3 separate regions of the Homo sapiens genome follow, and regions 1 and 3 are each linked to region 2. Evidence: fine-mapped expression QTL. A gene starts in region 2. Each other region holds a variant in brackets. All regions are shown on one strand. Distances are between the middles of the regions.

The links. PIP is the estimated chance that this variant, and not a neighbour inherited with it, causes the effect. A credible set is the group of variants that fine-mapping cannot tell apart.
Region 1: its variant is the best candidate, but not a certain one, in a credible set for the expression of PCCA in whole blood (TOPMed, PIP 0.72).
Region 3: its variant is the best candidate, but not a certain one, in a credible set for the expression of PCCA in whole blood (TOPMed, PIP 0.54).

The regions. Positions count from the first base shown.
Region 1 is chr13:100,379,857-100,384,098 of GRCh38, forward strand. All of the region lies in intron 19 of PCCA (propionyl-CoA carboxylase subunit alpha), which reads left to right. Among named protein-coding and RNA genes, the nearest start is that of PCCA-AS1, 99 kb to the right of the region's middle. The variant G/A (reference allele first, on the strand shown) is at 1,811.
Region 2 is chr13:100,086,921-100,091,162 of GRCh38, forward strand. It overlaps PCCA (propionyl-CoA carboxylase subunit alpha), which reads left to right and starts at 2,173. Exons shown (of 24, transcript NM_000282.4): 1 at 2,173-2,305. The coding sequence starts at 2,201. PCCA-DT (PCCA divergent transcript) reads right to left here and starts at 2,023. Exons shown (of 2, transcript NR_132422.1): 1 at 1,713-2,023. RefSeq lists enhancers at 1,703-1,752, 1,783-2,042 and a silencer at 2,323-2,502.
Region 3 is chr13:100,116,554-100,120,795 of GRCh38, forward strand. The region is part of intron 4 of PCCA (propionyl-CoA carboxylase subunit alpha); the gene reads left to right. Among named protein-coding and RNA genes, the nearest start is that of PCCA, 30 kb to the left of the region's middle. The variant C/A (reference allele first, on the strand shown) is at 2,092.

The sequences.
Region 1 (4,242 bases), 290 kb after region 2:
CAAGATGCAATTTGGGTGGGGACACACCCAAATCATGTAATTCCCAAATTAGTCTAAAGATGCAACACAATTCCTGCCGAAGTCCAAGCTGTATTTTTATCAGAAATTGACAAGCTGATCCTAAAATTTGGAAAATATGGAAACTTAAGGGACCCAGAATAGCCAAAGTAATCTAAACACACACACACACACACACAGACACACACGAAAAAACAAAAAAACACGCCAGTCACATTGGCTCAGACCTGTAATCCCAGCACTTTGGGAGGCCAAGGCAGGAGGATGACTTGAGCCCAAGAGTTCGAGACCAGCCTGAGAAATATAGTGAGGCCCCCATCTCTACAAAAAAGTTTTTTTTAGCTGATGGTGGTAGCATGTGCCTCTAGTCCCAGCTACCTAGAAGGCTGGGGTTGGAGGATAGCTTAAGCCCAGGAGGTGGAGGTTGCAGTGAGCTCTGATCACACCACTGCACTCCAGCCTGGGATACAGAGCAAAACTCTGTCTCAAAACCAACCAAACAAACAAACCCACAAAAATCCAGAATTGGATAAATCATATTTCCATCTTTCAGAAGTTACTACAAACAGCCTTGTAATCAAATACAGTGTAGTACTTGCAAAATGATTGTCATATAAATCAACAGAATAGAATTGAGAATCCAGAAATAAGCCCAAAAATATATGGTCAATTGATCTTTGACAAAGGTGCCAAAATAATTCAATGGTAAAAAGAATAATCTCTTCAACAAATGGTGTCGAAACACCTGGGTTCACATGTAAAGGAATGAAGTAGAAACCCTACCTCATATTGATTAGTATACAAAAATTAATCCAAAATGGATTGAAGACCTAAATATAAGAGGCAAAACATCTTTAAAAATAGATGAATTGTTCAACATCAAGATTAAAATGTTTGCTTCAAAGGACACTAACAGGAAATTGAAGACAAACCAGAGAATGGGAAAAAATATTTGCAAATGAAATTTTCAGTAAAGCACTTGTGTTTAAAATACATAAAGAACACTTACAACTTAACAATAAAAAACAGCCCACTCTAAAAATAGGCAAAAGATCTGAATAGACGTTTCTCCAAAGAATATATGCAATTGCCGGTAAGCACATATAGAGATGTTCTGCATCATAAGGCATGGAGGGATCCAGATGCAAATCAAAACCACAGTGAGATTGTCCTTTGTACCCACTACATAGCTCTACTTTAAAAAGTCAGGTAATAACAAGTGTTGGTAGGCCAGGTGCGGTGGCTCACGCCTGTAATCCCAGCACTTTGGGAGGCTGAGGCAGGTGGATCACGAGGTCAGGAGATGGAGACTGTCTTGGCTAACACAGTGAAACCCCGTCTCTACTAAAAATACAAAAACAAAATTAGCTGGGGCATGGTGATGGGCGCCTGTAGTCCCAGCTCCTTGGGAGGCTGAGGCAGGAGAATGGCATGAACCCGGGAGGTGGAGCTTGCAGTGAGCCGAGATCGCCACACTGCACTCCAGCCTGGGCGATAGAGCGAGACTCCGTCTCAAAAAAAAAAAAAAAAAAGTGTTGGCAAAGAGGTGGAGAAATTGAAACCTTCAAATGCTATTGGTGGGAACGTAAAAGGGTGCAGCTGCTTTGGAAAACAGGATGGCATTTCCTCAAATGGTTAAATATCTGGGTTATTCAGAACCTTGGCTCTGTTGTATCAGGAGTATTTAATCTTGAATATTTATATAAGTATTTATGTATTTCTTTATTACTATGGTGAATATATCTTACCTTTCAAATAATATTGAAGCAAGTTATTTCCCTGACCCCTTTGC[G/A]GGACCGCTTTGCCACGGGGTGCCTCCTTTAATCAGCCTATAGCTCTCAACTCCTTGTGGGAGGGAGCACACGAGCGAAGGAGGCGGGAACTGTAGTGCAGGAGCACTGGAACTGACCAGCCGTTTTGGCGCCAGTGGGATCAAACTCCACTCATTTGCACCTGTTGCCTTCCACACCTCGTAGGAGGGAGTGCACAGGTGAGTGGGTGCAGGAACCAGAGCAAGTGCTTTTGGGCGCCAGCAGGAGCGAACTCTGTGCAGGCCCCATGGCAGCATCCAGGAGGGGTGCCTGTGACTCCCAAAGCCCCAGAGGGCATGTTACAGTGCTCTTTTAGCTCTGCTCTCCACAGGCGGCTTAAGTGTTAACAGCTCAGTTGGCCTGCTGCTGCCCTCCACCAGCGAGGGCAAAGGGCCAGCGTAACAACCTTTTGTATCCACACACATGGCTCCTGAACTCTTGTCTGGTGTCCAGGAAAAATGAGGTCACACGAACTAATTGAAGGATGGTAAATGCAGGAATGATTTTATTGCCGATGAAAGTGGCTCTCAGTGGGAAGAGAGGGGAGCTGAAAAGGGGACAGAGGAGGGGTAGGTGATCTTCCCCTGAAGTCCGGCTGGATTTTCTCCGGTTACTCCATCAAGCTGTCCCTCTGAAGTCAAGTCCCTTCTCTCCAACATTCAGCTGCTTCTCCTCTCTGCTGATTGAGTCTGGGGTCTTTATAGGCACAGGATGAGGTGGGGTGGGGCCATGGGTAGTTTAGGAAAAGGCAACATTTGAGCTGGAAAACAGGGAGAGAAGTTCTCACTTTGGGCCACGGTCTCAGGCTTTTCAGCTTGAGGGTGGAACTTCACCAGGGACCCACACCTGTCTGCCTAGAATTTCTCTGCCTCCTGTCTCTATCATTGTATCAATATCAAACAATAGTTGTTGGCCTACATGTCAGTAATTTAAAGATGAATTAAATGGTTATATATGATAACATTTATCAGAGACCTTTAGAAACATTCATATTCTTTGGTCTACTATTTTTACTTCTAGAACATATTCCAAGCAAGCAATGAAAAATCGCTAATTCAACATATAATATTTTGTCAGGGAAAAAATAAATTAAAGGCAGTTGGGCTTGGAGATATCCATGTAAACAATCTGTACTTATAAGGGAAGGCAGAGTTGGAAGTAATTAAAATAATGTAATAAATGCATTAATAGAGGTGTCATCAACCAGTTAAATCTATGAGAAAGAAAGAAAGGCACTCAACTGCTTGGGGGAAGGGAAGGATCTGGGGGAAGATGAAAGAAGTTCCTCTTGGGGGAGATGACTGATGAGTCACAGCTTAGAACATATTTTTTAGTATATATAAGCCAGAACTTGCCTCAAAATTATTGTATAAATAAATGAGGAAAAACATTAGAATGTGGTAGCATGGGGGAGAGCACCTCAGTCCCCCAAGTAGCTGAGACTACAGGGGCATGCTACCATGTCTGGCTAATTTTTATATTTTTTGTAGTGACAGGGTTTTCGCCATGTTGCCTAGGCTGGTCTTGAACTCCTGGGTTCAAGCCATCTGCCCACCTTGGCCTCTCAAAGTGCTGGGATTACAGGCATGAGCCACCGTGCCCAGCCTGTGATTTCAAGTTTTATCCAAGCAATATTTTTTGAGAGCAATATAAGATTTGAGACTGGGTGCGTGGCTCACGCCTGTAATCCCAGCACATTGAGAGGCTAAGGCGGGAGGATCACTTGAGCCCAGGAGGTCTAGACCAGCCCTGGCAACAAAAAAAATTTTATATGATTAGCCGGTCATGGTGATACACGCCTGTAGCCTCAGCTACTCAGGAGGCCCAAGGGGGAAGATGCTTTGAGCCTGGGAGATTGAGGCTGCAGTGAGCCATGATTGCACCACTGCACTCTAGCCTGGGTGAGAGTGAAATCCTGGACCCCGTGTCGAAAAAAAAAAATAAAGATTTGAGATAGGTAAGCTTTTGTGTACAAGAGAGTTTGTGCTACATTTTGTTTTCTTTATAATGTTTGTTTTGGTTGATGCAAAATTGTTTCATCTTAGATGCTTGAGGTGGAAGGAGGGAATTGTTTTGTAGTATTCATATAATTGAAATTACCACCCTATATTTTTCTCCTCAAAGAAAGAATATGGTGATGAACTAAGAATAGAAAATAATAACTACATATGGATGCATAATAAGAAATAATTATATACGCATTGTTTGACGTTTTCCTTCTCTGCTATAACTCACCCTTTTTCCTTTGTTCTACCACCATATGTTTTGTTCTGGATTTCTTGACTAAGAAAACATTCCACCATAGTTTATTTTAATATTTAAAGAGCACTTTGAAAGTTTGATTTTTTTTTTTTTTTTTGAGACAGAGCTCACTCTGTTGCCCAGGCAGGAGTGCAGAGGCACAATCTTGGCT
Region 2 (4,242 bases):
AAGGCTCCTGGTATATTGTTTTGTCTCCCCGATCACCTAACTTCCTTCTTATCATCTGAGATGACAACTTTACCTCCACTGTAGTGTCCACATTCTGGCAAACTGGAAAGAGGAGAAGGGCAAGTGGAAAGCAAGCCTTTCCCTTTAAAGGTATAACCCAAAAGTTGTCTATGTCACTTGTGCTTATGTCCCATTGGCCAAAACTTAGTAACCAAATCTTGGTAAGCACCCTTGCTGCAGTGGGAGTTGGGAAATGTAGATCTTTGTTTAGGTAAGAAAGAAGAGGGCATGGAGGGCACAGTCCTTACATTCCAGACCTTAGTCATGGCGCTACACCTCGTTGTAAGGGAGGCTAGCTATTGCAGCCTTTCGCTGGGTGGCCATGTACCCAGCTAGATCTCAGGGGCACTCTTACTAAAGTAATGCATGGAGAATGGATAGCATGAGAAGCAGTTTCTGCTACAAGTGCCTTTCATAAAAAGAACTCCTATAAGAAAAACAAACAGGGCCTAAGGAAAACTAATCCAAAGGGTAAAACATGGGGAAAAGACAAAAAACAAAAGAAAAAAGAAAAGCAAGTTTCCCAGGTAGAAAATGAATGAAGACTGAGGTACATAAGTGAGAAGTCCTGTAAAATTGATAATCCTTTTCATTTTGTCACAAAAGTCCCTACTTACATTCTAAAATTCCATTAAATGTCACCTTTCTGATATCCCCATTTTATTTCTCTCTCTTTGGGCATTTACCATGCTGTAGTGTACTCTAGGCCATTCCTAGCTTTGTAACTCTCTCAAGGTGACTCTGCAGGAGATGCAAAGTAGTTAAGAGGAGAACCCCCAATACTGATGTGTTTATAGGTGAGGTGGTCTGATGTCTTAGATTTGCTTTAAAATATTCCTGCACAAAATAAAAAGGGGAATAGATGAAACAAGATTGACAAAATGTTGATTCATTGACGCGGTGTAATGGGTATCTGGGTGATCATAGTACAATTTTATCTCTTTTGTATATATTTTAAAATTTCCATAATATAGCAAAACATGAGCCCAGTCCCTCAAGGCAGCCAGATTTGGGTTCAAACCCTAGTTTGACCTTTTACTCGCTGAGTGACTTTACCCTGCTACAGCTTCAGTTTCTCCAAATGGAAATAATATATACTCCATTAAGGTTCTTGTAAACTCTCAAGTAAGAGGGAATCTGAGGCTCTAGCACACGGCCCGGCCCTTAATAGTTGTACTAATTTTTATTTTATTTTTCGAAACGGAGTTTGCTCTGTCACCCAGGCTGGAGTGTAGTGGCATGATCCGGCTCACTGCAACCTCCACCTCCAGGGTTCAAGCAATTCTCCTGCCTCAGCCTCCTCCCGAGTAACTGGGATTACAGGAGTGCGCCACCACGCCCAGCTAATTTTTGTATTTTTTAGTAGAGACGGGGTTTCGGCATGTTGTCCAGGCTGGTCTCCAACTCCTGACCTCAGGTTATCCTCCCGCCTCGGCCTCCCAGAGTGCTGGGATTACAGGCGTGAGCCACTGCGCCTGGCCAGTAGTTGTACTAACAAGGGTTTCTGCTTGCGAGCAACAAAGACTGACTCTAGTTGTGGCTAATTTCTTTCACACACACATATTAAGTGCCAGAGGTAGGACTTGAGCTCGGATCTCTGATTTCCAGACCTAGAACTTTTTATGTGTTATTACAGTCGTTAAAAACCTTACCTGGATTTGTGCTTTGCAATTTACGCTTTCGAACATGCAGGAATGTAGTTTGGGCATTTGTCTGGAACTTCGGATTCTCGGGACTCCAGGGTGGCCAAGGCGCGGAGGTGACTCAATGACATTGACCGGCCTGGATGCACGTGGGTTGCTGAGCCGATGCTGGGAAGGTACGGGGTTTGCCCGGTGCAGGCCGCCGGAACTCACGCACGCCCCTGTCTCTCTCACTCCTGGGGTCGGCTCTGGCCGGTGGCCTCCAGCTCAGCTAGCGGCCGGACGCGCAGCCCGCCGACTAGCCCTCCAGGTCCTAGCGCGACTCCCGGATCCCGGATCCGGCGGATCTGGCCGACCACTCACCCTCCCCTTTCCGCAAGTTAGGGGGCGGGGCATCGGGTTTCTGGCTCGTGATTTGCCGGAGCTCCTGCGCTCCCCTTCTCCACCCCCTCCGGCTGTGTGAGAGGTCAGCAGAGGGGCGGTCTGCGGGGACAACAATGGCGGGGTTCTGGGTCGGGACAGCACCGCTGGTCGCTGCCGGACGGCGTGGGCGGTGGCCGCCGCAGCAGCTGATGCTGAGCGCGGCGCTGCGGACCCTGAAGGTGAGGAGCAACGGGGCCTCGCGGGTCCGGGCTTCACTGGGCTTCTAGCCGTGCCGCCTCTGGGCGGCTGGCGCCGGGAGAGCGCTGGCTGGGTCCGGCTGCCCCCGCGCCCCGGTTCCGCATCAGCTACACCGCTTGCTTTCCTCCCTCCCGGAGTTCGCGTGGCAGCGGGCTCAGGAGGCATCCCTCGTTGCAGCTGTTCCTCGCGGGGATCCTGCGGAGCAGAGAGGCCTAGGGCAGAGGCAGTTGGGTGCCCGCACGCCCTCCGAGGCGGCTGATGGCTTTGGGCAGGCATATTGCTCGAGGTCTGCTTCCAGGGCCCCGCGGCATTGGCTTTGTCTTAAGCTTTCCAGGGTGTCTTTTTAGGTGTCCTTATAGTTTCCGTGTTCTGTTGCCTCTTTCCAGCATTTTTGAAGGGACACTGTGAACTGTTGCTTAAGTAGTGTTAGGGTTGTGAGTTTGTCTTATCTTTTAAAGTATTATACCATGTCAGGACTGCCAATAGATTTTACGTTTCATTTGAAAGCCTGTTTTAATTGTATGACACCCCAGTCTACTGTGTACCAAATGCATCCCGTGAACTTACTTTCCTTTTCGGTATAGTGGTGAGCCTGATTTTGGCACTGTTCTAAACACATTTCATGACTGTTCTGTATACCTAGGCTGTCATGATGGCAGATTGACAAACAGGTTGGAGTGCTTGTGTGTGCTTCTGAGCTCTGTCTCCAGTCAATGTCGAGTCTGTCGTTAATTCTGGGGCACAGACCACCTAACCTACTTTATAAGGTTTGTTGAGGCACTTGAACACATTCTTTAAAATGAAGGTCCCCTGAAAACCATCTGTCAGCTGGTTCAGTGTGCTTGTTAAACTTCCTTTTAAAAAATAATTATTAAAACATTGCCACATAACTTGATTTATAGTCATTTAATTTTAGACGTTGAAGACACTTTAGAGACGACCTGCCCCATCCTACTCTTTAAAGAGGAGGGAACCGAGCCCCAGGTGGGCAGTATGAGAGCTGGAGCTTATCGACATGGAAGTGAGTGGCACCTATGTTTGTTTTGTGTCCAATTCAGCGTGCGGACTTTCACTGTTTTCTGTGTTCCCATACAGTTTAGTGTTCTTTAATCTTTATCATTCTGTTCATCTGTGTTGGCCACTTCAATTGCAGCTGTAAGACTTATGCATTTACATAGGAGGCAAGTTAGTATGGTGTAAAGTGTGGGCTTTGGGGTCAGGCGCATGAGGCTTTGTATATTGGACAGGTCTCTTCCTTGGGCGTCAGCTTCGTCCTTGTAGCTATTTTTTTCAACAAATATTTACTGAATATCTCCTGTCTTCCACTTCTGGGGAATGAATATGGTTTCTGCTTTCTTAGAAATTTTACTCTAGTAGGGAGACTGTAACAAGTGTAAAATGGTATTAGGGGAGATGCCCGGGTGCTATAAGAAAATAAAATAGAGGGATTTGACCAAGCCAAGATTTTGAATTCTGTGTTCTAGATACTGTTCTGTTGCTTTGCTTGAACTAATTTATTCAATCTCACAACAGTCGTATGTCCCCCATTTACAGAAGATGAAAGTGAGGCACTGAGTGTTAATGTGACTTGCTCGAAGCTATAGTGCCAATAAGTGGCAAACAGGATTTAGAACTCCAGAACCTGTGCTCTTAATCATACTATGCTATCTACGGTAAGGGAGTGTTTTCCTTTGGAACTGAAAATTGAGACAAGTTTTGAAGGATGAAGTGACCTTTTCTAACAAACAGAGATGAATGTTATAGGTGAGAGAGCAGTGTATGCAAAGGTCCTGTGGCCAGAGGGAATGACAGGTTAGAAGAACTGAAAAAAGCCTACAGAGGCTCTGATGCAGAGAGTAGATGGTGTTGGGGAAGCTGGCAGGAGTCAGACCATCTGGCTCTTATAGATCACATTATG
Region 3 (4,242 bases), 30 kb after region 2:
AGTATTCTTGGTCCTTCGCTCTTCCATGTGAATTTTAGGATGAGCTGGCCAATTACCCCCCTTCCCCAATTTTTAGATACCATGAACAAGATTTTTATAAGTATAACTTTTGCATGTCTTTTTGTGAACATAATTTTGATTTTTTTTGGGTAAATATCTAGGAGTGGAGTAGCTGGGTCTTAGGGTAGATAAGGAGTTGGCAACCTTTTTTTGTTTGAAAGTAAATACATTTTTGTCTGGATAGCAAATATATTTTAGATTTTGCAGGCCCCTGTGGTCGCTGTTACATATGCTTCTTTTTGTTTTGTTTTGTTTTGTTTTAACAACACTTTAAAAATGTGAAAACTATTGTTAGCTTGAGAGCTGTGCAAAAACAGCCCTTGGATCAGATTTGGCCAGTGGGTAGACAGTATTTTGCTGATGCCTAGAATAAATACATGCATGTTTAAATTTATAAGAAGCTGCTAAATAGTTCTCCTTCATGGTTGTATCATATTTTACTCCCTCCAGAAATGTCTAGGTCAGGGTGCTTTTGTGTCCTTGCCAACACTTGGTGTTTTCAGTCCATTTGATTTTGTGTTTTATTTTTAAGTGGTTGTGAAGCAGTATGTCATTGTGTTTTTAATTTTAGATTTTCCTGATGAATACTGATGTTGAGTACTTTTTTGTGTTATTGGTCATTCATTTATATTTTTTTCTGAAGCATTTCTTCAAACATAATGAAAAAAATTAGAAAAGTAGTACCAGTATATTGGTATCAGTTTACTGTTATATACCAGTATAACGGTATCTGTATACCCTTCACCTAGATTCAGCAATTGTTAACATTTTGGCTTGTTTGCTTTATATTTGTATCCATATGTACATTGTGTGTGTGCATTTTTTTTTTTTTTGGCTAAACAATTTGAAAATAAGTTACAGGACATGGATGAAGCTGGAAACCATCATTCTCAGCAAACTATCACAGGGACAGAAAACAAAACACTGCACGTTCTCACTCATAGGTGGGAATTGAACAATGAAGACACTTGGACACAGGGTAGGGAACATCACACACTGTGTCCTGTTGTGGGGTTGGGGGATGGGGGAGGGATAGCATTAGGGGAAATACCTAATGTAAATGACGAGTTGATGGGTGCAGCAAAACAACATGAGACATGTATACCTATGTAACAAACCTGCACGTTGTGCACATGTACCCTAGAACTTAAAGTATATATATATATGTAAAAAAAGCAGCATTAAAAAGAATCCCCTGGACAGGAAAAAGAAAAAAAAAGAGGCCGGGCGTAGTGGCTCACGCCTGTAATCCCAGCACTTTGGGAGGCTGAGGCGGGCAGATCATGAGGGCAGGAGATCGAGACCATCCTGGCTAACACGGTGAAACCCTGTCTCTACTAAAAATACAAAAAATTAGCCAGGCGTGGTGGCAGGCTCCTGTGGTCCCAGCTACTTGGGAGGCTGAGGCAGGAGAATGGTGTGAACCCGGGAGGCGGAGCTTGCAGTGAGCTGAGATCGTGCCACTGCAGTCCAGCCTGGGCGACAGAGCAAGACTCCATCTCAAAAAAAAAGAAAAAAAAAAAAAAAGAAAATAAGTTACAGACATTGTGGCATTTTACCCGTAAATACTATTCATCTCGCAGTAATAAGTATGGTTTTCTACATATCTATAATACCTTATGAAACCTAAGAAAATAACTCATTATTCTATAATATCATGTAATATGCCTACCACATTCAGGTTTTTCCAGTTGACCCCAGTTGTCCTTTTTAATATTTTTCTTTGATCCACAGTTCAATCAAGGTTCATGAGTTACATTTGTTTATTATACCTCTTTAGTCTCTTAATCTAAAATAGTGCCCCTATTCTCCCTCTTTTTTTGTTTGATTTTTATTATGTTGGCTTTTAGATATTTTGGCTTTGTATGGAATCTATTTTCTCATGAATAGATTCAGATTAAATATTTGACAAGACTACTTCATAAGTGATGTTCTTTCTTTTTTTCTTTTTTTTGTGACAGAGTCTCTCTCAGTTGCCCGGGCTGGAGTGCAGTGGTGAGATTATAACTCACTGCAGCCTGACTTCCTGGG[C/A]ACAAGCGATCCTCCCACCTTAGTTTCCCAAGTAGTTGTGACTACAGGTGCATGCCACCACGCCTGGCTGATTTTTGTATTTTTTGTAAAGATGGGGTTTCACCATCTTTCCCAGGCTGGTCTTGAACTCCTGGGCTCAAGAGATCCTCTTGCCTTGGCCTCCCAAAGTGCTAGGATTACAGGCGTGAGCCACCGTACCCCAGCCAGTAATGTTATTTTTTTTAATAGTAATATCATAACAAGAGGTTCTTAATGTTGAATTGTTCTGTTGTTATGCTAAGTATGATCATTTGGTTTCATCAGGTCTTCCCATTATAATGGTACATTTTCTTTTTTTTTATTAAATAATTTTTGGGGTGAGTTTTTGAATCCTTGTGAATATTTTGTCCCTCAACCACCTCTCATCTAATGTTTTTGCATCGATAATGAAAATTGCCTGAGCCTGATTACTTTGGTTACATTTGTCTTGTTTGCTGTCTGTGGAGTAAGCTGTTGATTTTCTGCTCCTTTTTGAATCTGCCTGTTTTTATGTATTATCTTTTTTCTTATGTATTTGAGGCCTTTAGTATATTTATTTTTAGCATATTTAATTTAAAGAATCTATCATATTATTGTATTATTTCAAGTTTGTGGGTGTTTATTTCTATTCCTGACTCTTCCTCATAACATATTGTTTCCTCGCATGTTTAAATTTTGGTGTGTGATTCTATGTTTGGTGCTTTTGTTGTTGAATTTCAAGATGGTTTGGGTTATGGATTTGGCCAGGTAGGATAGGTGGTATATTTGTTTCCATCACACCCTCCAGGGTATCACTCATCTGGGACTAATTTTTATATTAAATTTTTGGCATAAAGATTGTCAAATTTTGAAGATAATGGGAAGAACAAAATGAGATTGCACACACACAGATACACACCTGTTGAATAGGCTCATGGTTTCTAATATCTAGAGACATTTTCGTTTACTTTGAACCACAGAGATACGAGCATAGGGTTTATCCTCTCTATTTCGTAGGTTGATTCCTCCCCCACAACCTTTCACTGAGAATGTAATCTTTGAGCCTCCTGGCTTTAGACAGAAGGGTTTCCTTCAAACCTCCAACTCACACGGGATCTGTTTCCTTTCTCTGATCGTTAAAACCCAATCTTCTAGATTATTGAGATTCCCACCTTCACTCTCCAAGACTGGCTCTTGTGGATGCAGACTGATTTTCATTTTTATATTATTTATTTATTTATTTATTTGAGCCGGAGTTTTGCTCTTGTTGTCCAGGCTGGAATGCAATGGCGCAATCTCAGCTCACTGCAACCTCCATCTCCTGGGTTCAAGCGATTCTCCTGCCTCAGCCTCCCGAGTAGCTGGGCTTACAGGCATGCATCACCAAACTACTGAATTTTCAGTAGAGACAGGGTTTCACCATGTTGGCCAGGCTGGTCTCGAACTCCTGACCTCAAGTGATCCACCCGCCTCAGCCTCCCAAAGTGCTGGGATTACAGGTTTGAGCCACCATGCCCAGCCAGATTTTCAGATTACTTTTTTTTTTTTTTTTTTTGAGACAGAGCCTTACTCTGTTGCCCAGGCTGGAGTGCAGTGGTGTGATCATAGCAAACTACAGCCATGAACTCCTGGGCTCAAGTGATTGTCCTGCTTCAGCCTCCTGAGTAGCTGGGACTACATGCACATGCCGTTGTGCCCTGCTTCCTTTTTCTTTTTCATCCCTTGTAGTTTTTTTGTGAGCCAAGCTCTTCATTTGAAGGATGTTTGTTATATTTAATCTAGGTCTTTAGATGTTTCTAAGGAGGATTTGCAGGTTATTTAGTTGGCTTATTGTTGGTTTGTCTTAAAACAATATGACATCCTATTCTTTGTTGAGGAAATTCCCTTAATTTCTTTGAGAAATAAAGACTGATCTAGAGCAGTCTTAAAGTCAGGCTTTCCCTAGGAAAACAATTCATTTATAATGATGAGATTAATGTGCCTGAATCCAGGGGATGAGGCTATAGGGAAGCAGTATAAAATACTCCAATGGGAATTGGTCAGGGCAGGAGAAAGCAAAATGGGAGTTAAGCCTCTTATTAAGTCATGAATTTTTTTTTATGTTTCATTTTCCAGGCCCTAGGAAAGCACGCTTATTATTCTCTGGGAAGATTT